Homo sapiens: one gene and its partners. The protein of the gene in region 1 purifies or fractionates together with the protein of each later gene. This does not show direct contact. Each region holds a gene or a part of one and is shown in the gene's direction. Other genes may lie near its edges. The genes, in order: LRRK1, ASAP1, SOS1, MAP4K1, SH3GLB2, SOS2 and ERC1.

The links.
Region 2: the proteins of LRRK1 (region 1) and ASAP1 purify together in Homo sapiens (affinity purification with mass spectrometry, with the first as the bait; one study listed by BioGRID). This does not show direct contact.
Region 3: the proteins of LRRK1 (region 1) and SOS1 purify together in Homo sapiens (affinity purification with mass spectrometry, with the first as the bait; one study listed by BioGRID). This does not show direct contact.
Region 4: the proteins of LRRK1 (region 1) and MAP4K1 purify together in Homo sapiens (affinity purification with mass spectrometry, with the first as the bait; one study listed by BioGRID). This does not show direct contact.
Region 5: the proteins of LRRK1 (region 1) and SH3GLB2 purify together in Homo sapiens (affinity purification with mass spectrometry; one large-scale study listed by BioGRID and IntAct). This does not show direct contact.
Region 6: the proteins of LRRK1 (region 1) and SOS2 purify together in Homo sapiens (affinity purification with mass spectrometry, with the first as the bait; one study listed by BioGRID). This does not show direct contact.
Region 7: the proteins of LRRK1 (region 1) and ERC1 purify together in Homo sapiens (affinity purification with mass spectrometry; one large-scale study listed by BioGRID and IntAct). This does not show direct contact.

What each region holds. Positions count from the first base shown.
Region 1 is NC_000015.10:101,065,857-101,069,356, forward strand, and holds part of LRRK1 (leucine-rich repeat serine/threonine-protein kinase 1), read left to right. Parts: coding exon 1-349; intron 350-783; coding exon 784-885; intron 886-2,814; coding exon 2,815-2,992; 3' UTR 2,993-3,500.
Region 2 is NC_000008.11:130,051,604-130,055,674, reverse strand, and holds the end of ASAP1 (arf-GAP with SH3 domain, ANK repeat and PH domain-containing protein 1), read left to right. Parts: intron 1-869; coding exon 870-944; 3' UTR 945-3,571; downstream 3,572-4,071. UniProt on the Homo sapiens protein: Possesses phosphatidylinositol 4,5-bisphosphate-dependent GTPase-activating protein activity for ARF1 (ADP ribosylation factor 1) and ARF5 and a lesser activity towards ARF6.
Region 3 is NC_000002.12:38,988,552-38,992,051, reverse strand, and holds part of SOS1 (son of sevenless homolog 1), read left to right. Parts: intron 1-2,737; coding exon 2,738-2,782; intron 2,783-3,500.
Region 4 is NC_000019.10:38,587,141-38,590,547, reverse strand, and holds the end of MAP4K1 (mitogen-activated protein kinase kinase kinase kinase 1), read left to right. Parts: intron 1-1,272; coding exon of another isoform or gene 1,273-1,370; intron 1,371-2,730; coding exon 2,731-2,800; 3' UTR 2,801-2,907; downstream 2,908-3,407. Other genes in the region: RYR1 (ryanodine receptor 1), read right to left, coding at 3,128-3,223. UniProt on the Homo sapiens protein: Serine/threonine-protein kinase, which plays a role in the response to environmental stress. Appears to act upstream of the JUN N-terminal pathway.
Region 5 is NC_000009.12:129,011,332-129,014,831, reverse strand, and holds part of SH3GLB2 (endophilin-B2), read left to right. Parts: coding exon 1-61; intron 62-328; coding exon 329-421; intron 422-1,812; coding exon of another isoform or gene 1,813-1,824; intron 1,825-2,533; coding exon 2,534-2,596; intron 2,597-3,500.
Region 6 is NC_000014.9:50,225,079-50,228,578, reverse strand, and holds part of SOS2 (son of sevenless homolog 2), read left to right. Parts: intron 1-3,500.
Region 7 is NC_000012.12:997,723-1,001,222, forward strand, and holds part of ERC1 (ELKS/Rab6-interacting/CAST family member 1), read left to right. Parts: intron 1-3,500. UniProt on the Homo sapiens protein: Regulatory subunit of the IKK complex. Probably recruits IkappaBalpha/NFKBIA to the complex. May be involved in the organization of the cytomatrix at the nerve terminals active zone (CAZ) which regulates neurotransmitter release.

The sequences.
Region 1 (3,500 bases):
TGCCTGAGGGGGACTCCATCGCGGACGTGAGCATCATGTACAGTGAGGAGCTGGGCACGCAGATCCTGATCCACCAGGAATCACTCACTGACTACTGCTCCATGTCCTCCTACTCCTCATCCCCACCCCGCCAGGCTGCCAGGTCCCCCTCAAGCCTCCCCAGCTCCCCAGCAAGTTCTTCCAGTGTGCCTTTCTCCACCGACTGCGAGGACTCAGACATGCTACATACGCCCGGTGCTGCCTCCGACAGGTCTGAGCATGACCTGACCCCCATGGACGGGGAGACCTTCAGCCAGCACCTGCAGGCCGTGAAGATCCTCGCCGTCAGAGACCTCATTTGGGTCCCCAGGTACGTTTCCCGAGGTGAGGGCACCATCCAGGGCACGCCCACTGCTCCTGCTCTGGGGACAGAGCAAGGGGAAGCCCCCTGGCTTCCTTACAGGTCATGTGGGGAGGCAGGTGCTGTTCTTCCAAGAGGGTTGGTTTCCTCCATTGGGAATGGAAGCGATCGCTTTAGCAAATCTAAGAGTGGCCGCACAAAAGCTTATTGCCTGCCAGAGAGCTTAAGGTGCCACACAAGGAAAGCCACAGTCAACTGTGACTCAGTTTCCACTGAGAAAATTCTCCTCTGCTTTGAAGTCTGTCCCCTCCCCATAACTTAATCCCTTAGCAGAAACTGCATGTCTGTTGCCTCCCTCCCGCACCTTTCTGCACACCGGCTTCACTCCCCGGAGAGCACGGCTACCGACAAATCGCTTCCCCTTCTGGGTTTTGGTTGCTTAGGCGCGGTGGAGATGTTATCGTCATTGGCCTGGAGAAGGATTCTGGCGCCCAGCGGGGCCGAGTCATTGCCGTCTTAAAAGCCCGAGAGCTGACTCCGCATGGGTAAGACTGAGTGGCAGCTCCTTTAGGACCCAGGCAGCAGCATGAGCACAGAAGGCCCTGCAGCCAGGTCCTGCACAGTGGCTTTGCTGCCCTTCCATTCTCCCAAATAGCATAGCCACTAACGTGGCTGTAAGGCAAAGTGGAAACAAGATGGGGCCCCTCAGACAGCTCCTAGGGGCTCCGCACTGGCCATGGCTGCCTGTTTCTGGAGTACCCAGTGCACCTGTAGATCAAGTACCCTACCTAGTACCCTACCTAACGAATGTCTCCAGGGCCAGAGTTCAGCTGCAATCGACATGCAGATGCATCCAGGTCATTGATTCACTGTTCTTCCTGCCAAGCAGGAAACCCTACCCGAGGTGTCCACCAGCCCACACAGCACCCTATGGGGACAGATGACACAGGCACACCTTGTCATCTCCAAGCCTGGGGTCTCAGCTCCTGCCCTTCCTGGGCTGAGACATAGCTCAGTACCTGTCTGTGGGTGGGGACCCCCAGGATTATGCCAGTCTCCTCTGTGAAGGTATGCTGGGCAGGGTGGCCTGTCCGGGACATGGTCTACATGGTTGCAGTGATGTGAGGCTGGCGCCAGCTGCAGCTCCCCACAGTGTTTACACCCCGCACTTTGACTACCGAGCCCCACACGGTAAATCTCCCCTACGAAAAGTCCTCAGTTCAAATGTGTGTGTGTGTGTGTGTGTGTGTGTGTGTGTGTGTGTGTGTACTTTGGAGCTCTTCCATTTCACACTAGGCCTGTTTCCCTGCAGCATGAGTTATCCCCCATCCCTGGGCAAGTGGGTTTTTATTTCATCTGGAGCATAAGAGGGTGGAGAAACACCAGTCAGCTTGCTTCTCCCAAAGCAGGACAATGACAAGGACATCCTTGGCAGTCGCACTCCCTTGCCTGCCAGCTTTGAACTTTTGCAGTGAGTCCTGGGCCAGTGACCCTTACTCTGTAAGTGGTTCTGGAAGCAAGATCTGGATCTGCTCCTGAGCTCTGGCAGAGCCTGTGGGTAGAAGCCTTGAACTGATGGAGTTCCCAGCTTGCAGGTCGGGCTTCTGGAGGAAATGGGTGTGCAGCACCCAGGTTAGGACCTTGGCATACCTGCCATTAATGTCCTAACGTTTAGCTGTTGTTTTTCTCCTATTCATCCCTAAAGCCAGATTTTACCTCTTTCTCGCTAGAGGGAGGCTCCTCCCCTAAGGGGAGGTCCTGGCAAGGCCACGCGGAGTGAGAGGTCCCTGGACATCCCAGTTTGCAGGAGCACCTCAGTGCCACGCAGGCCGCACACACGGGACACAGAGGGAGGAAAGGCAATTAGTATGTGCTTGGGGTGGGGCACCACCAGGGCAGGGAGGCCACACTGTGGCCCAAAAGGAAACCTGTAGCACACACCCACCGATCCTGCAAAACTGTCCACAGTTTCAAAAAATGTATATAGTGATGACTTTGGGGCAGTAGGTTTTCCATTTAATATATGATCCTGTATTTCCTAAGCCTGTAGAAACAGAATGAGAGAAGAATCTTACTGAGCTTAGTGGCAAGGGAGTTGAGTTAAACTCGGTCATGAGCCATTCACAAGCAGAAATTTGGGTCAGTGGTGTTTTCTGGACGCTTTGGGAGCTGAGTCAAGGATGCATGATCTGATTGCCTCTGTGGCCTTCCAGGGAGTCTGACTCTTACAGACAAAGCCCATGGACGCGAACTCATGCCCACAGCCCGTCTTTGGACTTTATAAAGCCTAAGCCCACAGGCTGGCCACTGGGGAGAAGTGGTGCATCTCAGCACACCCCAGAGAGGGCTGGCAAGCAGACACACTCCCCTGCCCTTAGCCAGCTCCGCCTTCCTCAGAAGGCACAGGGGGAGGGTCCCAACCCCACCCGAGTGGGAACCCCTGTGAGTTTCCTCAGACCCCCTTCTCTCTGCAGGGTGCTGGTGGATGCTGCCGTGGTGGCAAAGGACACTGTTGTGTGCACCTTTGAAAATGAAAACACAGAGTGGTGCCTGGCCGTCTGGAGGGGCTGGGGCGCCAGGGAGTTCGACATTTTCTACCAGTCCTACGAGGAGCTGGGCCGGCTGGAGGCTTGCACTCGCAAGAGAAGGTAATTCCTGTGGAATGACTGTCACACATCAGAGCTGGCTGGCCCGGGGCTGCAGCCTGACCCCTCTGCCATCGGCCTCTAGTTCTCCAAGGACCTAGAAGACAGATGGAGTTCTCCCCTGAACTCCTTGCTGCTAAGAAGTGCTGAGAAGTTACTCGCCTGGCGGTGGCTCCAGGGTTCTCTGGTTCTCTGGAGCAGAGTTCTCTGAATACCCCATCCCCCAACTGCTGATTTTACAGCCCCAGGGAAGACAGTGGTATCAGGCTGGGAGCGGCCTCCTCTGGCCTCCCCCATCAGTTTGCAGGAGCAGGGGTGCAGGATCCTGTTCTGAGCTGGGTCAAACAAAGCAGGGCCGGGCCTTCCTGCCATCCCCAGGTCTCAGATGGAATTACACTAGAGGCCCTCCGCTGGGAAGCACTTGAGGTAGGGCAGGAGGGGGGCTGTGACCCCTGCCCTTTCCCCGCCAGAGACCTCAGGCTCTCAGCACATTCCACAGGCTCCTGAGTCCCCGA
Region 2 (4,071 bases), on another chromosome or scaffold:
GGTAACTGGCTTACAGGCCAATGCAGCAGACAATAAAATTGCCATTCGCCACCATCAGTCTCAAACTTTCACAGTATTCTTCCTCCACGGTAACCAGAAAACAAGTGATAGTACATAGCAGCCTTTTTTTTTTTTTTTTACTGGCTAGAACAACACTTTACTCACAAAGAGAAGAGACAGAACAAGATTAGCTTTGATTTGAGTATGGTACCCCGCAGTGGGTCTTGCCAGGCAGCTGACACAGCTTAATGGTCTGTATGCATCCTACCTGGGCTGTGGGCAAAGAAACCCCTTCCTTCCCAACTAGGAATAGGTAATAGTACTGGGATTGGCCAGGTGCCATAGCAGCCTTTTCATTTGCTTTTTTTTTTTTTTTTCTTTTTTAAATGTATCACACAAGCCTGGAGAGAAGGGATTTTCTTTAGCCCCACTTAACAGAGAAAAGGCTTAGCAAGGTTTGTGTGAGGTCACCCAGCTGTAAAGGCAGCCAGGCGCCCTGGTTCAGAGCAAGGACTCTAGAGCCCCACGCCTGTGGGAGAGCATGTCACCTCTCTGGGCCACTGTCCCTTCATCTGTAAAATGAAGATTGTAAACTGTATAAGAAATATCCACCTCAGGGGGTTGCTGTGTGGGTACAGCAAGATCCATGTAGAATGCTGAGCATATTGGAAGTTCTGTCGTTTGCTCTTTCCTTATGTAGTTTATGACCGTTAAGCTCTCTGTAGTTCACTAAAGGGTGGGAAGAAGGGTAAGCCTGGGATTCCACCGCCAGGTCTGTGGGCAGACTAGGCTGGGCTCTTACCCACTGGGTTTGTCGTGGGGCCACTGCCTGCTGCCTCCATCCTGACCACTCTCTTTTCTCCCTGCAGATTGGCCACATCGAAGGACAGCCTGAAAGGAAGGGGGTCTTTCCAGTGTCCTTTGTTCATATCCTGTCTGACTAGCAAAACGCAGAACCTTAAGATTGTCCACATCCTTCATGCAAGACTGCTGCCTTCATGTAACCCTGGGCACAGTGTGTATATAGCTGCTGTTACAGAGTAAGAAACTCATGGAAGGGCCACCTCAGGAGGGGGATATAATGTGTGTTGTAAATATCCTGTGGTTTTCTGCCTTCACCAGTATGAGGGTAGCCTCGGACCCGGCGCGCCTTACTGGTTTGCCAAAGCCATCCTTGGCATCTAGCACTTACATCTCTCTATGCTGTTCTACAAGCAAACAAACAAAAATAGGAGTATAGGAACTGCTGGCTTTGCAAATAGAAGTGGTCTCCAGCAACCGTTGAAAGGCATAGAATTGACTCTGTTCCTAACAATGCAGTATTCTCAATTGTGTTACTGAAAATGCAACATTAGCAAAGAGGTGGGTTCTGTTTTCCAGGTGAAACTTTTAGCTCCATGACAGACCAGCCTGTAGTTATCTGTGTACACAGTTTACAGCTACAAAAACCTACTTTGGTATTTATTACAGAAAAGTGCTCAGTTAAATGTAAGTGTTATTCCTTCAGCAAAATATTCACTGACCCAAAACTCTTTATGGCATTTTACAATGCACACAGCCTCATGCAAGTTTAGACAAGTGGATTTATACTGTCTTATGAGTGCCCGCCCCTGATATATTACCTCATTATGCAAAAATAACATATCTTTCATGACTATTTTGACAAAAGTTTAAAACACATATGAAGTTCAAATTTCAGGAACCAAGGACTGCCAGAAAATATTAGCCTCTACATTACGCATGCATTTAGAAGCTTACCTGAAATCTGCCTTTTATAAAGGAATAGTATGGATAAGTGGAATTGTACATTTTTTAAACTTGATTGCCATTAAAGCAGAAATTATAAGGTTGCAACAATATTTGTTTCTAATCACTGGCTTTCTCAAGAGTATGGATTGACATATTGTGTTATGAATGCACATCTCTCAGATGTGTTGAAGCATCCATTGCATCCATTTTTTATTATTTTCTTAGTTTTGTTCTTGGACAAATTTAAACTTTTAAAAGATTATTCAAGATGAATTTAAAAGTCAACCCTTCACACAGTTTCCCTACTGTATGTAGAATCCAGGTGCTGAAACCAAGTGTTTCTTTTCCCATGCTCTTTGTTAAACCCCAATTATAGATAATTTTTCCAGTCTTAAGCTCTGTCCACCTTCAAGTCAATTCATAACCAAGTTTTTGAACGCTGCTATGAATTGCACTGTGAAAAGCACTCTTCCCTCTCAGTTTTCTTTTCATCCCAGCCATGTTTATCAGATCCTTAAGAACATTGTATTTCAGTCTTTTACATCAGTCTGAATTTTGGAAAAGAATGCAATAGTTGTACTCCACAGTCAGTGGAACTGTTCCCTGAGTCCGAGGCTCATGTGTCATTCTGGCACTACATTTGCTTAAATTGCTATTTTGGCAACAGCACAGAAAACTAATATTTTTAAGCAGAGAATCTTGGCAATGAGTGAGAGATGTTAATTTCACAGAAGCACAACTCCCAACCCAACCCTTAGGAAAAGCCCTCTTCCATCGTTACAGTGCTCAGTGAATATTAATTTAGTTCTGCTTAAGTGGTTGCTATACAAACTTTGAATAGCCACCTAATAAATAAACCTTGCATGACAAACCTGCAAAATATTTTATCAGCTGTTATTGGAAAGTGATTTTAAGCAATTGCTTCCTCAGTGTCAGGGCACATGTGAATTTCCACACCAAACAGAGCATGAGGAACCAGTTGACATGCTGGGTTGTGACTGGCAGCTTTAGCAGCCTCGGTACTGAAGCCACACCAGTGTCCGGATGGAAGTCTGCATCTGAGGTTGCTCAGTGTCCCGGTCATTCATTTACACATTTTAACTTGCATTAAAGAGCTGTTCTTTTCTGTGGCCTAGACTCTTTTCACTGATCTCAAAATAAACTGGTTTTTTTCAAAAAAAAAAAAAAAACAAAAACAAAAAAAAAACACAAAAGCTGCATGTCTAAAATTACATGGAGTTAGTGTCTATTCTTTTTCCCCTTTTGCAGCAACTTACACAGCATTTTTAACACCTTTTTTTTCTAGTTTTTTTGTTCGGTTTTGTTTTCCATCAGGAATTTGAGTTCTCTCTAACCCAGCTTACTGTGGGACATAGGAAAACTCAGTAGAAATACCTTTGGTGATCTTGTTGAGTTTAAGTCTGATCTTGATCTTAAACTCAGTAAGCCACTATCTGCAATTTTGTACATTATATAGTATTTTGAAGATATGGAACCTTATGAAAAAAAAATAGCAAATTAGTTCTTTTTCCCCCAGAGGGGAAAGTTATGTTCTGCAAATAGTGTGTGTCTTATTTTACTGTTGAACAGCAATTGCTATTTATTTTTTTATTGCCTAGAACTTCAACATGTTGTATAGGAATCCTGTAGTGCCACTAGTTAAATGCCGAATTCTCATCTGGATGTTACCATCAAACATCAGTACACTTGTCATTTCACATGTGTTTAATGTGACAGTTTTTCAGTACTGTATGTGTTAATTTCTACTTTTTTTAATATTTAAAATTGCTTTTAAATAAACATATTCTCAGTTGATCCCAAACTTCTGAAATCAGGCCATTTTGTGAGTTGTTCACTACCCTGCTGACAGGAGAGAATCAAGGCTTCCTCTGGCTGTGCTTTCGGGTATATAGATGACACAGGTCACTCCAACCCTTGTCAGAGATCACTCTGGATACATAAAAATATGTGGCACTTGCCCCGGCTTACAAACTGTGGGCCTTCGGCCCCTTTCTGTCCTCCACCTTCCGCATTCCACCTCCACCACGTCCACTTGTGCGCCCGTTGATGTGAACAGGGCAAGAAGAGGGTGGAGGGGCACGAGGCTTACATGTTGTCGTGTGGACAGCACTTCTGTCACGTAGCTGTCACAACTAGTGCTGCCACGCAGTGGAGCAGACCTGGCCCAGGCACTCTGCCTGCATTAACCCCTGAATCCTTAGCAAGCCCAGGAGAAGCGTGAGCCCCTCAGCTTTACAGAGCTGACAAATGAGGCTCAGAGGCATTCATTCACACACAGGAGACATGTGGCTTGTAAATCAC
Region 3 (3,500 bases), on another chromosome or scaffold:
TGTCATCCCAACATATTCCACTCAAAGCAGTACAAAGTTCCATTGTTTAAGTTTTTCAAAAGGCAGAGTTTGACTAGAATTTTTTTTTATCAGTTATAATACTATACTATTCTTTTTTTACTCTTACGGTTTTTTCCCAAAATAATCTACTTTTAAAAACCTATAATTAATTATTTCAGCCAGTATCTGCTGCATATCTTATTCCTTGCTAAACACTTACACGTCTTCACTGGGAAAGCTTGCAGTCTTACTGAGAGATTAAAAATAATCATAGTGCAAAGAGATTCACAGTTAAACGCTAAAAATAGTGGTAAAGACATAAATACTGGAGAAGCTTATAGAAAGATGACCTCAGAATGAGCAAGAGTGGTCATGGAAAGCGTTGTGGCAAAGACAGGGCAGAGAAGTGGCCACGTACTTAGTGCTGCCACACATACATTCAAAGCCCTGCTCCACACCTTGCCCTGGCCAGGTCCACCTTTGAGGTGATGACGACAGTTGCTGAGAAAAGAGAAAAGACCACTGGCTCACTACTTGTTTCTGCTGCTATAATAGAGAGGAGAAAATGATGAAATGCTCTTTTTACCTTCCTGTTTGAAGATTGCCTGGTCATAAAAGGGAGTCAGAGGTCTGACTTCTCCATTTCCATCCCTTAGGGGACTCTTTAACAACAAAAAGAATGTATTACAAGTATGTCAAGCTGATAACGCAAGGCTTTTCCTCCTGGAAGATTGCTGTAGGTGATGAGTTTCTAATCCCAAATATATTTGCATTTACCAGGCTTTTGTGAGTTTAAGAAGTTATCTATCATATCTTTTTTTTTTTTTCTATAGAAAAATGCTTGTTTCTATCAAGAATGACTCCTTTATAAACTGGGGAGTATCTTTAAGAGTGGTTTCAACCCTGACTGTATAGTATCATCTGTTGAGGAGCTTAAAAAAAATATGTAGGCCCAGCCCACACTAGACTGGCATTGGTACCTGGTATCAGTATTTTTTAAAAACTTCCCATAGGATTCTAATGTACAGCCAAGATTGAGGACCATTTGTCTGTCATCTGGGATTATGCTTAATAAATTAATACTGTTTTTTAAATTAATTAGATTTCACTTCTAAGTCATTATCAGTAAATTTACTCAGTATCTAACTGACAAGAATTTCTAGCATATATTTCTTGATTAGTGCATGTAAAATTCTAAAAGAATTTCTATAGTATTTTCCAGGCAATAAGACAACTAGTGCCCCAAATTTACCAAATGCATGAGTCTAAGCCTGTGCTATATATAAATATACTCAAAGCCAAGTTTACATCTGTGTACACAAGTGTGCATGCATATGTACAATTAAAGACTATAGTTGTAACAGTCATGAGCTTGTGTTTTGATTTTACTCCTATTCCTGTATTGTATTAAGTGTACTATCATGTTCTTGAGGCATATCTCCAGGAGATATGTTTATTTCTTTTCCAGGAAAAGTGGGACATATATAAGTAGGGTAAACGCTAGAGCTAGATACTCCTTTAATCTCTATTACGTCAGATCTCTGGCTCCCTTTTACAACCAGGCAATCTTCAATTATAGGTGGCTAATAGGGAAGAAAATCATCGGCAGAGCAACAGCTTCATGTAATTTCAGAGTAGAAAAATGAATTTTAATCTTCTGAAAGGTAATATTAGAATTAGCTGGATTGCTACACTTAGGAATCATAGGTTCCAAATAAATATCAGTACATACGGAAATCAGATAATGGGACAGATTATTTGAAATTAGGGCTGCCTAGAAATCTGGAATGTGAGATCACCCTCCTTCTGACCAAATATGCTTGAATAAACTTAATATTCCAAATTATGTGAGGGATTGCCTATTGTGCAAAAAAAAAAAAACGAAATCTGAATTTAAAAAAAATTACCACAGTCTAGTATTATTTTAGTCTCTTGGATGTTATAACGTTATCTGTTCCATCTGTTGTTAATATGAGACACTGTACAAACAAACAACTATATTGATTTAGAATCAGTATAGATCACCTAGCTTTTTGTCTCAATTTTCCTACTTTAATGCTCTTGGGGCTTTCGCTTTTGATTTTCAGTTTTTTCCTTAAAATAATTAATATTGTTGAAATTAGACTTTCTAAATTTAAATTTATCAGAATTTCCTATGTAAAATGAGTCTAGGCACCAAATGTTTAATGACTTTAAAAAAAATGTTTATGACTATAAAAGGAAAAACCCTGTATCAATTTCAAGCTTGTTTTATATCCAAAGTGCTAGTTATTTTGTGATGAGAATATATGCCCCAAGAACATTTTTGAAAGACATATAATTAGTAACTTTTTTATTTTTCAACTTACATAAAATAAACTTATTACTTGTTTCACAAGTTTGAGTTTTCAAAATAATATTTACTAAATGGCATATTTATATACATCCAGCTGAACTTTTTGCTTGAATTGGGTTTCTACATTTTAAAAAGTCTTTCAGTAATATACGATTTTTTTATGAATGTTTTTCATTTAATAATTATGAAATCAAGTAAAGCTAAAAGGAATCTTAAATTCCCAATATGATATCATTTTTTTCTTCTCAAAAGTAAGTAGTAATGAGGTTTTACTATAAACTGTTACAGCATTCTTTAAAACGACAATGACAATAACATTTTCATCATAATACAAATTTTTGCAGATGAGTTGAATATATCAATGAAAGAAAAAAATCTACTTTTTCTTGTTTCCTTTCACAGGCAATGATACCGTCTTTATCCAAGTTACTCTGCCCCATGGCCCAAGTTAGTATATTTGGTTTAAGACTCATAATTCTTGCTTTGGCTTTAAAAATCAAACCAAGTGTAACCTTTCCTGCTAAAACTCTTCTTGGGTCTGGCAGCATTGGTACCTTGCTTGCAACATCCTAGAAGTGAGGCCTTCACTTGTGCTATCTTTAGATCATAAGTGATTTGCTTAAATTTATATATTTCTCATGCTTTTTATAAAACCTTGTTTCTCTCTTAAAAGAACATATTAAATAAGTGGCTTCCACATTTAACCATTTCTTTTTTCCAACTATAGAGTTCTAAGTATATTTTAATGCTCAACTTTGAAAAAAAAAAAAAGGCAAGAGCATGCATGCGCATATGGGAATGCTGGCAGCTACATGCAGTTTCTAAATCACAAAATATACTTAGCCTGATGGCAGGATAGATTATAGACAACTGCTTTTGACTTTAGAAGAACTTTCTTATAATTGTAATTATTCAAAGTATAGCCTAAATACTGATAAACAAAATAAAGTTCCATTTTAATTGTAAGGTAAACTAACAAGTCACTAAATTCCATTATTTTAATTATTTAAGCTAATATTTTTTTGCTGTCCTTTCATACAATTTCAAAATATGTACAATGGAAAATACTAGTTACAAGCTGAATTAACTATATTCTTAAGAAAAAAGGTAGGTGATCAAAATGTTGATCATTTAAATAATATCAGTACACAAAGTACTCTTTTTA
Region 4 (3,407 bases), on another chromosome or scaffold:
GAGATTACGCCACTGCACTCCAGCCTGGGTGACAGAGCGAGACTCTGTCTCAGAAAACAACAACAACAACAACAAAAAATTTCACCCGTTGTCCTAGTGACGCCCGTGATTATATATATATATATATATATATATATATATATATATATATATTTTTTTTTTTTTTTTTTTTTTCTGGTCCAAGATCATAGGTGGCACTTAGGAGCCATGTTTCTTTATAATTAAGCCGGAAAAAATAATTAAAACTTCTTTTGTCTTAAAGGAGCTTTGACCTTTTTAAAAATTAAAGGAAATTTGTTTTCTAAAATGTCCCTTAACTGTGTTTGAGGTTTCCACGTTCTGAATTTTGGGCAGGAATACTGCAGAAAGATGTCTTTCTCAGTGCATCATTTCAGGAAGTACACAATGCTAGTTTGTCCCATTACTGGTGATATTAACTTCGGTCATTTGGTTAAGGTAGAATCAGCCAGTTCTCTCCACTGTGAAGTTGCTTTTTTCTCCCTTTTTCTTTTTTTTTAAAGATAGATTCTCTCTCTGTCACCCTGGCTGGAGTGCAGTGACGCGATCATGGCTCACTGCAGCCTCGACCTCCTGGGTTCAATCAGTCCTCCCACCTCAACCTCCCGGGTAGCTGGGATGACAGGCGCGTACCACTACACCTGGCTTATTTTCGTATTTTTTGTACAGACAGGGTTTCGCCATGTTACTTAGCCTGGTCTGGAACTCCTGGACTCAAGAGATTCACCTGTGTAGGCTTCCCAAAGTGCTGGGCTTATAGGCAGGGGTCACCGCACCCAGCCTCTGTTTTTCTTTGTAATAAGAAGTATCCCACCGGTCGGGCGCGGTGGCTCACGCCTGTAATCCCAGCACTTTGGGAGGCCGAGGCAGGTGGATCACCTGAGGTCGGGAGTTTGAGACCAGCCTGACCAATGTGGAGAAACCCTGTCTCTACTAAAAATACAAAATTAGCCGGGCATGGTGTTGCATGCCTGTAATCCCAGCTACTCGGGAGGCTGAGGCAGGAGAAGCGCTTGAACCCGGGAGGCGGAGGTTGCAGTGAGCCGAGATCGCGCCATTGCACTCCAGCCTGGGCAACAAGAGTGAACTCTGTCTCAAAAAAAAAAAAAGAAGTATCTTTTGGGGAGATTCACTGAGACGAGGTAAATAGTCTGTAAATACGTTGTTTCTCATCAGATTTTCACCCACTAGTTTTATTGTTTTTTGTTTGTCTTTTGTTGTTGTTTTGAGTCAGAGTCTCACTCTGTCCCCCAGGCTGGAGTGCAGTGGCACGATCTCGCCTCACTGCAACCTCCTCCTCCCAGGTTCAAGCAATTCTCCTGCCTCAGCCTCCCGAGTAGCTGGGATTACAGGTTTGAGCCAACGCACCTGGCCTGCCCACTAGTTTTAGAATCAATTGATTTTTCCCTGAATCTATTATTGTTAGGTGGCTACTAACAATAAATGGTGATTTTCTGATTCTATGTTTCCTTCTGCGTGTGTTAGTTGGCATTCTACTCTAAAGAAGAGCTGTGTCTTCTCCATTCTTCTTTCTTTATACCAGCATGGTCTCATGGATTTTTATTCTGTGGGTTATAGTCTATTACTGTCATTATTTATTTATTTATTTATGAGATGGAGTCTCGCTCTGTCACCCAGGCTGGAGTGCAGTGGTGTGATCTCAGCTCACTGCAACCTCTGCCTCCCAGGTTCAATCGATCCTCCTGCCTCAGCCTCCCGAATAGCTGGGATTACAGGCGTGCACCACCATGCCTGGATAAATTTTTTTTTTTTTTTTTGAGACAGAGGCTCGCTCTGTCGCCCAGGCTGGAGTGCACTGGCGCTATCTCGGCTCACTGCAAGCTCTGGCTCCCAGGTTCACGCCATTCTCCTGCCTCAGCCTCCCGAGTAGCTGGGACTATAGTGCCTGCCACCACACCTGGCTAATTTTTTTTTGTATTTTTAGTAGAGATGGGGTTTCACCGTGTTAGCCAGGATGGACCTGGATAATTTTTGTAGTTTTAGTAGAGATGGGATTCACCATATTGGCCAGGCTGGTCTTGAACTCCTGACCTCAAGTGATCTGCCCCCCTTGGCCTCCCAAAGTGCTGGGATTACAAGCATGAGCCACCATGCCCGGCCTTGTCATTATTTATTTTGAGGCACAAATGGTCTTAAATTTAGCCAGTGGGAACCACTTTAAGTAGCCCCTGTGTCCTTTTGACATGCCAGAAGGGTCACTTTAAATCCAAATCTGATCGTGTCACTGTCTCCCTGCTTAAAATCCTCCCATGGCCTCAAGATAAAGACTCAATCCTGGCCACAGCCCACAAGGCCATGACATCTCCAGCCAAGTCCCAGCCTTTCTCCCACCTCAAATCCTTTGCACAGGCTGTTCTCCCCAGCCAGAACACTCTTCCTTGCCCTTTCACCAAGTTCCCTCCTAACCCCCCTTCAGGCTGCACCATCCATTCTCTGGGGAGTCTGGGCTGACCTCCTGGGTTAGGTTTCCCTGCCAGACATGCCATGCTTTTTTGCACTCATGTAATTCACTGATTCATGTTGATCTCCTTCTCTAGAATGCAAGCTTCCTAAGGGCAGGGACCGTGTCTGCCCATTCACTGCTATAGTTCAGCATGGGGCTGGCACAGTCTCTATTAACTACTTTGTGAATTAATGAATCAATGAACATATGAATGAATAAATGAACTGACTTATCTCTTCCTTCCACAGGCCTGTAGTGGTGGAGACACGCCCAGTGGATGATCCTACTGCTCCCAGCAACCTCTACATCCAGGAATGAGTCCCTAGGGGGGTGTCAGGAACTAGTCCTTGCACCCCCTCCCCCATAGACACACTAGTGGTCATGGCATGTCCTCATCTCCCAATAAACATGACTTTAGCCTCTGCTGTCATCTTGTTTTTCTTGGGGGAAACAATTCCTGGATGTCCACTCCTCCAAAATTTCAGCAGGCCAACACAGTGATGCTGGGGGGCGTAGCACAGATTTATTTTCCAGTACTAGGTCACCTCTCCCCCAGCTGCCTTAGGGGGAGGGGCTTGGGGACTAAGGGGCTTGCTGTGAGAATAAGGCACTTGAGGTGGGGGTGGAGGGCCAGCTGGGGGTGTGTCAGCTAAGCTGGTCCTCATACTGCTTACGGAAACAATCACCAGCTGGGAAGAAATCCCAACATCTCTCTTGGTACATCTTCCAGACATAAGACTCCTAGGATTGGGGATAGAAAGAGTTCATTGGTCACATCTTCAAACCCTTGAGACATATATATATATATATTTTTAGACAGGGTGTTGCTCTGTTGCCCAGGCTGGAGTGCAGTGGCGACAATCACAGCTCACTACAGCCTCCTGGCTCAAGCGATTCTCCACCTCAGTCTCCAGAGTAGCTGGGA
Region 5 (3,500 bases), on another chromosome or scaffold:
CTCCATCAGCTTCCTCACACCCTTGCGCAACTTCCTGGAGGGGGACTGGAAGACCATCTCGGTGAGGGCCCTGGGACTATTCCGCTTCCTGGTAACCATGGCAGTTCCCTCCTCAGAGCCTTTGAGTACAGGCTCTCTTCCAGTGCTGGGGCTACAAAACTCCTGAGGCCTCCCCAGAGAGGGCTCCTTTGGACTGAGTGACCTCCTATCTCTGGGCCTCAGTTTCCCTATCTTGACTTGATCGTCCCCGGCACCAATCTTGCCATGCATGGCTCAGGGTCTCCCAGGGCAGCCCAGGGTCTCACTGTCCCCATGCCCTGCCCTGTAGAAGGAGAGGCGGCTCCTCCAAAACCGGCGTCTGGACTTGGATGCCTGCAAAGCGAGGCTGAAGAAGGCCAAGGCTGCAGAAGCCAAAGCCACGGTAGGTGTCCCCGCTCCCCGCTGGCCTCCTGGCCCAGGCTCTGGCTGGAGCCAAGGGGTGGTGGCATGAAGGGACCTGGTATTTGGCATGACCTCTCTCCCCTCTCCCTGGCTGGAGATGCCTGGCTGGGGGCTGCTGGGCTGAGCCTCTCTGTCCCTGCCCTCAAGGGAGCCTTGGTGGCCCCCGAGCTCTGGTTCCCAGGGAGATATCTACGGTGTGGGCGGACCAGCAGTGCCCCCAGCTGGGTGCACCACCCCGCCAGGCAGCTGGAGTCTCCTGCATGCCCTGCCCTGCCCTCCTAGATGCTCGGCTCTGTCCCCGGCTCTGCCCGGGCATGGCACCTTCTTACTAACTCTACTACTTGCTGCTTGAACGTCAGGCCGAGGGTCCCTGTGCTCAGGCGCCCCCACGATGGTGTGGAAAACCTGGGAGCTGGACCGCCCGCTTGCTCAGGGCCGTGTCCGAGGGGTCCCATGAGATTGGATAGGGCCTGGGCCATCTGGCGCCCCCTTCACTCCCAGCTCACTGAGGCCTGTTCAGCCTGGCTGGGTCAATGGGACGCAGCCTGGGACAGTGTGCCCAGGGCGAGGCCAGGATTGGAGGAGCTGGGCCCAAGGGTGAACACCCTCCTGGCACAAGAGGTTGCTCAGGGCTGCCAGGCCTAAAGGCTGCCTCATACCTTGCAGAGGGAACTCCCAGGCCCAGGCCTACTAGGGAGATGGCTACCTGTGGCTGCCAGCTGATTAGCCGAGGGAGGCCAGGCCTAGCCTGGGCTCACAGCTGCCCATGCACCTTGCGTTCCCCTCCCATAGTGTGGCCCCAGAGCCAGCACTGCCCCTGGCGAGAACCGTCTCAGGTCACTCAAGTGTGTGGGGTCTAGATCAGAGGCAGGGGTGTAGTTGTTTCAATCTTGGGGTTGGCTAGGGTGACCTGTGCCTATTGGGATGACCTCTTCTAAGGCACCTGAACAGGACAGTCTCCCCCGTCACTTCGGGCCAGACACCGTCTCTGGAGTAACTCAGCCAGAACACACTCTCTCCATCAGCCAGGCCAGAGGAGCCTTTCCTGTCATTGCAGTGGTGTGGCCTCTCCCTCACCTGGTGGGCCTGGACAACCTCACATCCTGGGGTTGGGCCAGGCCACCTTTCCAGAGCTAGGACTTGGGCAGCCCCAGGAACAGCATTCCAGAGGACTCAAGCTCCACAGCTCTGTCCCCATAAGCACGCACACGTTAGGACTCTTCAGGAGGGCAGGCTGTGGTGCCTCCCTCCGCCCGACCGCCTGGTGTCCCCTCCCACTGGGGCCTGGGGGGCCTGCTCCTGCCTGCGCTGTGGACTCACTAACTCTTTGTTTTTGTTCCTTTCCGTCCTGCTTTGGGTAACTTGGCTCAGTGTGAGGGAGATGTGAGTATACCTGTCCCACGCGCTGTGCTGCTTCCGGTCTGCCCATCTTGCCCGTGGACCCACGGTGCCATGGCCAGCCCACGTCCTTGGGGCATTTTGCAAGCAGCTGGTCTCCCCGCCAGAGCCTCTACTGTGCAGGGCCTCTGGTTTAGGGGGGGATGCCAGGCGTTGGGGCCTGTGAGTCAGCTTTTTGCAAATGTTGGACGCCTGTCACTCTGTCTGCCCATGCATCCATCTGTCCACCTTCATTGTCGGGAGGGGCCTGGCCCTTGATGCAGGAGCAAGAGATGTGGTGTGCGGATTCTGGGATGGAAAAAGCCATCCCAGTTGGGGGTGGGCTGTGTTTGCGGGACCCTGGGGCATCTGAGTGCCACTGGTCTGGGGAGGAGGGGGCTGTGGCCCCTGGCAGGGGAGAGCCCAGCCTGTGACTTGCTCAGGCAGCCTCGGCCATCTCCTCACCGCATTTGCTCTCCTGAGCTCCAGTGCCTGCAGCCACTTGATCTTTGTCTGGACTCTCCAAGTCCCTAGGCCCCTCATCTCCAGGTGGTTGGAGTCGGGAGAAGGGGGTTTGTGTTGTGTTTGTATCCCCGTCCCTGGGGTCAGGCCTCTTGGCATCTCCTTGTGCAAGACTCTGGGGTAGCCTCCTGACCTCGACCCTGGCCCTGGCCCAGGGTGACCCCCTCCCCACATGAACTCTGTTCCCCGCCAGACGGTGCCTGACTTTCAGGAGACTAGACCTCGTAATTACATTCTCTCGGCCAGCGCCTCCGCGGTAAGCGCACCCCACCCCCACCCCACCCCTCGTCCTCCTCTCTCCCCACGTCCCACACCACTGCCTCTGACTGCACAGGAGCTAGAAGCCAGCTTGGGTAAGGCGGGGGCACTGCCATGTGATCAGGTCAGTCCTGAGACACTGGGGAGGGGCAGCAGCCCCCACCTCTGTCCACGGCCTGGCCCCGGTGCCCTGTGGCCATGGAGCTGGACTTGTTTCCCTCTGCAAAACGCTGGAGCTGGCGGCAGGGCCAGCCACACTGAGTAGTGTGGAGAACTCAGGGCGGCAGCTGTCCCATCCCCAGGGCCCCTCCACCTCCTGCTGTCTCTGAATGCCAGGCCCTGGGGAGGCCCTGAGGATAGAGGAGGAGGCCTGGCCGTGCCTTTCTGGAGTTCACAGACCCCTAAAGACAGGAGGCAGGGATGGCGTCGTAGGCCTGGAGAGCGCCTGGGGGGCGGGAGGGCCTGAGGCTGTGCTTAAGGCCCAGAGGTCCTGGAGCAGGGCATGTCTTGTCCTGAGGCTTAGGCAGGGCCCCCAGGGGAGTTGGGGCAGGAGGTGGGGAGGACAGGATCGTGGAGGCTTCGCATGTCATGGTGTCTGTTGGTTTTTAGGCTTTCTTGGGAAGTCTGGTGTTTCCTATGTAGTTTGGGGACTAGGCCACACCTCTCCCTCATGCTTGTCACCACTGCTACACCTTGTCTGCCCACTTTCTCTCCTTCCCGCCCCTGGAGGTGAGACCCTCACCTCTCTCGTGAGCATGCTGCCTCATGTCTTCCGTGCCGTCGTTCTGTGGCTGGGTGACTGTCCCTCAGGCCGCCAACCCTAGTTGGCTCTCACAGCAACTTCCAGTGCTCCTGGACGGGGACTTCCTAAGCAGCATGGGGGCCACACGGGCCGGCCACGC
Region 6 (3,500 bases), on another chromosome or scaffold:
TTCCATGCAAATGTAAATGAACATGTATCAATTATTTTGATTCAGCCCATTGATGAGGGAACTAGTAAGATGTTAAAGTCACTTAATATGAAAATTTGAGGAGGTATTTATAGGCAATTTAATAAGGGAATATTAAGACTGTTGGGTTACATACAGAATTAGTTAATACCCTACAAGAAACATAAAAGAGTAGGCTTTGGGTTATATTTTCCTCTGGCTAAAAATTACTTGCATCTCAGTGGGCGTGGTGGCTCACACCTGTAATCCAGCACTCTGGGAGGCTGAGGCTGGTGGATCAACTGAGTTTAGGAGTTCGTGACCAGCCTGGCCAGCATGGTGAAACCCCGTCTCTACTAAAAAATACCAAAAATTAGCTGGGTGTGGTGGTGTGTGCCTGTAATCCCAGCTGCTCAGGAGGCTGAGGCAGGAGAATCACTTGAACCTGCTAGGCAGAGGTTGCAGTGAGCCGAGATCACACCACTGCACTCCATCCTGGGCGACAGAGCGAGACTCCATCTCAAAAAAAAAAAAAAAATTACTTGCATCTCTATCTGCTGAAAAGCTGTAACTTAATCTTATAGATGTGTAAAATAGTCAGTAGAAATTAATAAAAGATTCAAGCATAGCACTGTACTGAAACACAGCCAGTATTCTTTTGCTTATTTTCCAGTTTTGGCTAGTTTTTATGAAAACTGGATATCTATGTCTATATCCATGTATATATCCATATATACCCATATATAGATCCATATATATATGTATTTGACAAAGTCACCATTGTCAACATTGAAAATTCAAGGGATTTTTAAAAAACCAATCTCAAGTATTCATTGCATTACATAGAAACACAGAGATGGGCTGGGCGCAGTGGCTCATGCCTGTAATCCCATTTGGGAGGCCAAGGCGGGCAGATTACCTGAGGTCAGGAGATCGAGACCATGCTGGCTAACACGGTGAAACCCCATCTCTACTAAAAATACAGAAAAAAACCCAAAAAATTAGCCGGGCGTGGTGGCGGACGCCTGTAGTCCCAGCTACTCGGGAGGCTGAGGCAGGAGAATGGTATGAACCCAGAAGGTGGAGCTTGCAGTTGAGCCGAGATCGCGCCACTGCACTCCAGCATGGGCGATGGAGTAAGACTCTGTCTCAAAAAAAAAAAATACCAAAATTAGCCAAGTGTGGTGGTGCATGCCTGTGATCCCAGCTACTCGGGAGGCTGAGGCAGAGAATCTCTTGAACATGGGAGGCAGAGGTTAGAGTGGGCTGAGATCGCACCACTGCACTCCAGCCTGGGCGACAGAGCGAGACTCTGTCTCAAAAAAAAAAAAAAAGAAAGAAAGAAAGAAAAAGAAACACAGAGATAGACAAATAGGTTTATGGAAAAATAATTTTGGGAATAGAAATGTGGTGTTCTTTAGCTTTTTGCTTGTTCTTAAACTTTTAAAATAGAACCTCACCTAGATCATTTAAAAACAGAGAGCTACAAAGCAGAGTGAAATGACACTACTAATGGATAATGCATGGATTGTTAACATTACTGCTAAATTATGTATCTTCCCTAAAAGAGCCTAGAACATAATTGCCTTCACCACTGCTCCCCAAGATCATTGAAGCTATTGTGTTACTTGGGGAAAAAAGAGCATGGTGTATATTTGTAAATGCAGTTTATTACCTGTGTCGTTGAAATCCCTTGGTACTATATGCATGTGTTATTTGATTATATGTTGAGATAAATCAGCATTCTTCATATGGGAAATATGCCTCAAAATCATTTTATCAGATTTTACAGTCCCTGATATTTATTTTGTAGATGTCTTTTCTGTAAGGTGTTTTTCACCAGGCTAGCCATAGAAAAGAACATGGCTGTTTTCTTGCCAGCTGTAGTTAAAAATGTCAGAGAAAGCTAGAAAGAATTGGTTGAATTACTTTGTTCCTGAGTCCAATTAGATTCAGGTTAAATATCGACCTCCCCACCCTGTGACAATTTGCTCTTAGATATCTAAAAGGCAAGAGGTGTGAGAGAATGTCTGGGTTAATTAATAGCAGTCTACGGCAAGGAAAAAGATCGGTAGGGGCTTTGATTTAAAAATGGTTTTGTGAAGTTCTACTGAGATCCTAGTGTTTCTGCGTTTGTACAAATGTCTCTTGGAAGTTTGTTTTAGAAGATGGCACTGGATCTTTCCTGAGGCCCACAAGAAAAGTACAGGGTGATCTGAGAAAATATAACTGGTGTCATTGATATATGAGAGTCAAAGAAGACTTTAAGCAAGCAACATTTGTGCTTCTTTCTGGATTATATATTCAAATATAGTAATATTACTGTCTCCAGGCTGGTCTTGAACTCCTGGGCTCAAGCGATCCTCCCACCTTGGCCTCCAAAAATGCTGGGATTACAGGTGTAAGCTACGTCGCCTGGCTGCAGACACTGTTCTTGATACGGAAGATGTAGCAGAGCCCCTGCTGTTATAAAGCTTGTGTTCTAAGTGGCTGTGGCAGAGAGACAGACAATAAGGAAGTAAACAATTATCTGAAAGATCAGTAGAATTAACAAGAAAAAAAAAGGGCGGGGGGGAAGGATTTGAGGCTGAGGGGAAAGTAAGAACATGATTTGTTTGTTTGTTTGTTTTGAATAGGTCTCAGATTCTGAATTTAATGACTTATTTTAAAAAACAAGAAGAATAAGTGGATGAAGCTAGTATGGTAGACTGTAGGTACACTGAGTTAAGGTCTCTGCCTGAGAATAGGAAGTCCTGTTGGGTTCTCATTTACATAGCAAAGTAATTAGATTAACTTGATCAGAATTGCTTTTTGAAAAGATTACTTCAAGTCAAAGCCAAAAACTAATAAGAGATCCTGTGATTTTTGTGACATGAGCCTGTTCTGGAATTCCTAAAGCCGCTGAATGTAACAGTAGAACTCGAGGGAGTCATTTGGAATTATTCCAAACTAATAATGACCCAAACTGACCCGAAGAGTTCAGCCAGAACTAGATGAGCGGTAGGAATGTACTTTAACTTGCTGTACTTGGCTCCCTGTCAGCAATGATTAAGTAGCCTTCTATTTTTGGTTTAATTTTGGTATGGTATATTTGGAGCAATAATATTCCATTAAAGTGTTTTATGCTGAGTATTCAAAGCATTACCTGTGTTACCCCTTGACATAAATCAACTATATGTCTTTTGTATTAACCATGGACTCTCTTTCAAGGGAACAGTAATTTGATTATATCCTGCATATTTGAATCAAAAGGAATTTTAATGTAACTAGTGGATTTAGCATTATCTCATGTTAAAAATTAACAACCAAAAATTATTTTCTTCCATGGGCCAGGTGCAGTAGCTCATGCCTGTAATCCTAGTACTTTGGGAGGCTGAGATGGGAGGATTGCTTGAGGCCAGGAGTTCAAGACCAACCTGGCCAACATAGCGAGACCCCATGTCCATAAAAAATTATTTTCTTCTTTTACATAAGAATATATGCTAGTACAAAGTTTTTTCAAA
Region 7 (3,500 bases), on another chromosome or scaffold:
GGGAATAGTGGTCTGGAACTGGCACTGGCAGGAAGGAAGGTACCAGCCTCATTTCCCAGTATTGGGTGTGGAGTGGAAGAGACTGAGTAGCTTTCACTTAAAAGGACTATATGAGAAGAGGTGTCCTGATTGGAAAGTCAGCTTTCAGTTAAGGCAGAGAGGTAGCAAGAACATTTCCCAAGGAAGTTGAAGACTTTTAGAGGAGTTTCTTGATAAAAGAATGAAGTTCCATGAGAGTGTATTTTTCCACCCTATTGGCTTGTTATCATCATTTAAACTTTAAAATGTCTCTTCATCTTAATAAAAAACTCCAGATTTATACTTTATTGCTCTAAGTTGCTCTCTGCTTTACACACTTAAGAGTTTTCTGCATTTGCTGTGTATCTCCATTTCTTCACCTGTGACTTCTCAACCTATTTCTGTCTTGTTTCTATCGCCATTATTTCAGTGAAACTGAAAATAGCTAGTGAAAATATGTATGAAAATAGCCAATGTCTATTTTACTATCCTGTTCTTATTTAACCTCTTAGCAGCTGTGCTAGTTTCTATTGGCTATATAACAAATTACCCCCTAACTTAAGAAACATTTATTGTTTCACAGATTTTGTAGATCAGGAATGTGGGTGCAGTTGGCACCTATGATTCAGGGTCTCTCACAAGGCTGCAGTCATCTCAAAGCGCTACTTGGGGAGGCTGTTTCCAAGCTCACTCATGCGGCAATTGGCAGGCCTGAGGTCCTTGTTGGCTGCTTGCTGGAGAGGTGAGTCCCTTGCCATTTGGGTTTCTGCGTACGACTACTTAAAATATGATATCTCAGTGCTTCTGTCTTCAAAAGAGGACAGATATTAGCCAGAATCTTTTTGTAACCTTATCTTGGAAGTGATGTGGTATCACTTTTGTTGTATTCTGTTATCAGCCAGTCACTAGGTCCAGTGCACTCAAGGCAGGATTTCACAATTGCATGAATGCTGGGAGGCAGAGATCACTCATAGCCATTTCAGGACTGTCTACCACAGCAGCATTTGACAGAGCGGATACCCCTCCTTCCTTTGTAAAGCTCTCTCTTCTCTTGAGGTCTTCAGAGCACTTTTCTGTTTTTCTTGCTGGTTCTCTGGGCTCTTTCTCTGTCACTTTTTTTTTTTTTTTTTTTTTTTTGAGGCAGAGTCTTGCTCTATCGCCCAGGCTGGGGTGCAGTGGCACAATCTTGGCTCACTGCAACCTCCGCCTCCTGGGTTCAAGTGATTCTCCTGCCTTAGCCTCTTGAGTAGCTGGGATTACAGGTGTGCACCACCACACCCAGCTAATTTTTGTATTTTTAGTAGAGATGGGGTTTCACCATGTTGGCCAGGCTGGTCTCGAACTCCTGGCCTCAGGTGATCTGTCTGCCTTGGCCTCCCAAAGTGTTGGGATTATAGGCGTGAGCCACCGTGCCTGGCCTCTCAGTCACCTTTTGAGTCTTTCTGTGCTCATTTATTAAATGTTTGAATTTCTTTGGGCTTTCTCATCGCTTTCTATTTCATTTTTCATCTGTGTGCTGAGTATTCATTTTTATGTCTTCAGTTTTTACCTCTCTCCTGAGTCTGAGGACCACTCTATCGAATTGCTACTGAATGTTTCCATTTGGATGCCCCTTAAACCGAACACATCCAGAACGGAATGTATGATTCCTACACTTCCTCTGGTGTTTCTTAATTTGTTAAATGACACCACTGGGTGCTTAAGCCGGAAATGTGTGTGGTGTTCTTGATTTCTCCCTCTCCTCCACCTTCCATTTTACTATTGCTTTTTATTTTTCTAGAGCCATGGCTGTTCAGTGATGGTGTGAATGTTTCTATGAGGTAGTGCATCCTCTGCCAGGTTGCAAGCATTGAACCTGGTGCTAGGTGATTTTTTTTTTTTTTTTTTTTTGAGATGGAGTTTCACTCTGTCGCCAGGCTGGAGTGCAATGGTGCAACCTCCGCCTCCCGGGTTCAAACGATTCCCCTGCCTCAGCCTCCCGAGTAGATGGGATTATAGGCGTGCACCACCACGGCCAGCTAATTTTGTATTTTTAGTAGAGACGGGATTTCTCCATGTTGGTCAGGCTGGTCTCAAACTCCTGACCTCAGGTGATCCGCCTGTCTTGGCCTCCCAGAGTGCTGGGATTACAGGCGTGAGCCACTGTGCCCAGCCCGCTAGGTGATTTTTAAGATTCCTTCCAATCTTGAGATACTGCGTGTGTAGCTATTGAAGATTTCTGAGTAGGAGATGCATGATCAGGGCTGTGCTTCAGAAAGGTGGCAACTCTTGAACAGTCATTTTTAGTTGTTCACCAAAGAATGAAACTAAACACCTGTATTCTTTTTAACTTTATTATGGTGTGCTAAGTGATGAATAGATAATTTTTATGTGACAGCCCTTTTGTATATATTAGTTTCATTTTTTCTCATTGTTAATGCATTTATGTTTGGAAGCCCTTTTGCATGGAAATAAGATAATCAGGCCAGGCACAGTGGCTCACGCCTGTAATCCTAGCACTTTGGCAGACTGAGGTGGGTGGATCACTTGAGGCCAGGAGTTCAAGACCAGCCTGAGCAACGTGGCGAAACCCCATCTCTACTAAAAAATAAAAAAATTAGCTGGGTGTGGTGGTGCACGCCTGTAATCACAGCCACTCTGGAGGCTGAGGCATGAGAATTCCTTGAACCCTGGAGGCGGAGGTTGCAGTGAACTGGGATTACACCACTGCACTCCAGTCTGGATGACAGAGCGAGACCCTGTCTCAGAAAAAAAAAAAAAAATAACCCAATGGGATGAAAATTTTGGGATGAAAATTTGTGTGAACTTAAATTAAGTGTCTCTGCCATCCTGGCCAACATGGTGAAACCCCGTCTCTACTAAAAATACAAAAATTAGCTGGGTGTGGTGGTGTGTGCCTGTAGTCCTAGCTATTTGGGAAGCTGAGGTGAGAGAATCGCTTGAACCTGGGACGCACAGGTTGCAGTGAGCCAAAATCACGCCATTGCACCCAGCCTGGTGACAGAGCAAGATTCTGTCTTAAAACAAAAAAAATTAAGTGTCTGAAATTGTAAAAACTTCTCAAGAAATAAAATTCAGACCTTAAACATAATTTTACTGTAGGAATATAACTTACCTTTTGAAGGAATTCTTTCTTGAAGCCATTATTTGTGTATTTATTTATTTTTAATTAACTTTTTTGTTTGTTTGTTTTTTTGAGATGGAGTTTTGCCCAGACTGGAGTGCAGTGATGCGATCTCGTCTCACGGCACCTCCCAGGTTCAAGCGATTCTCCTGCCTCAGCCTCCCAAGTAGCTGAGATTACAGGTATGGGCAACCACGCCTGGCTAATTTTTGTTTTTAGTAGAGATGGAGTTTCACCATGTTGGCTAGGCTGGTCTCAAACTCCTGACCTCAGGTGATCTGCTCACCTCGGCCTCCCAAAGTGCTGGGATTACAGGCGTGAGCCACACTGCCGGTGCTTGCCACCTTGCCTGGCTAAT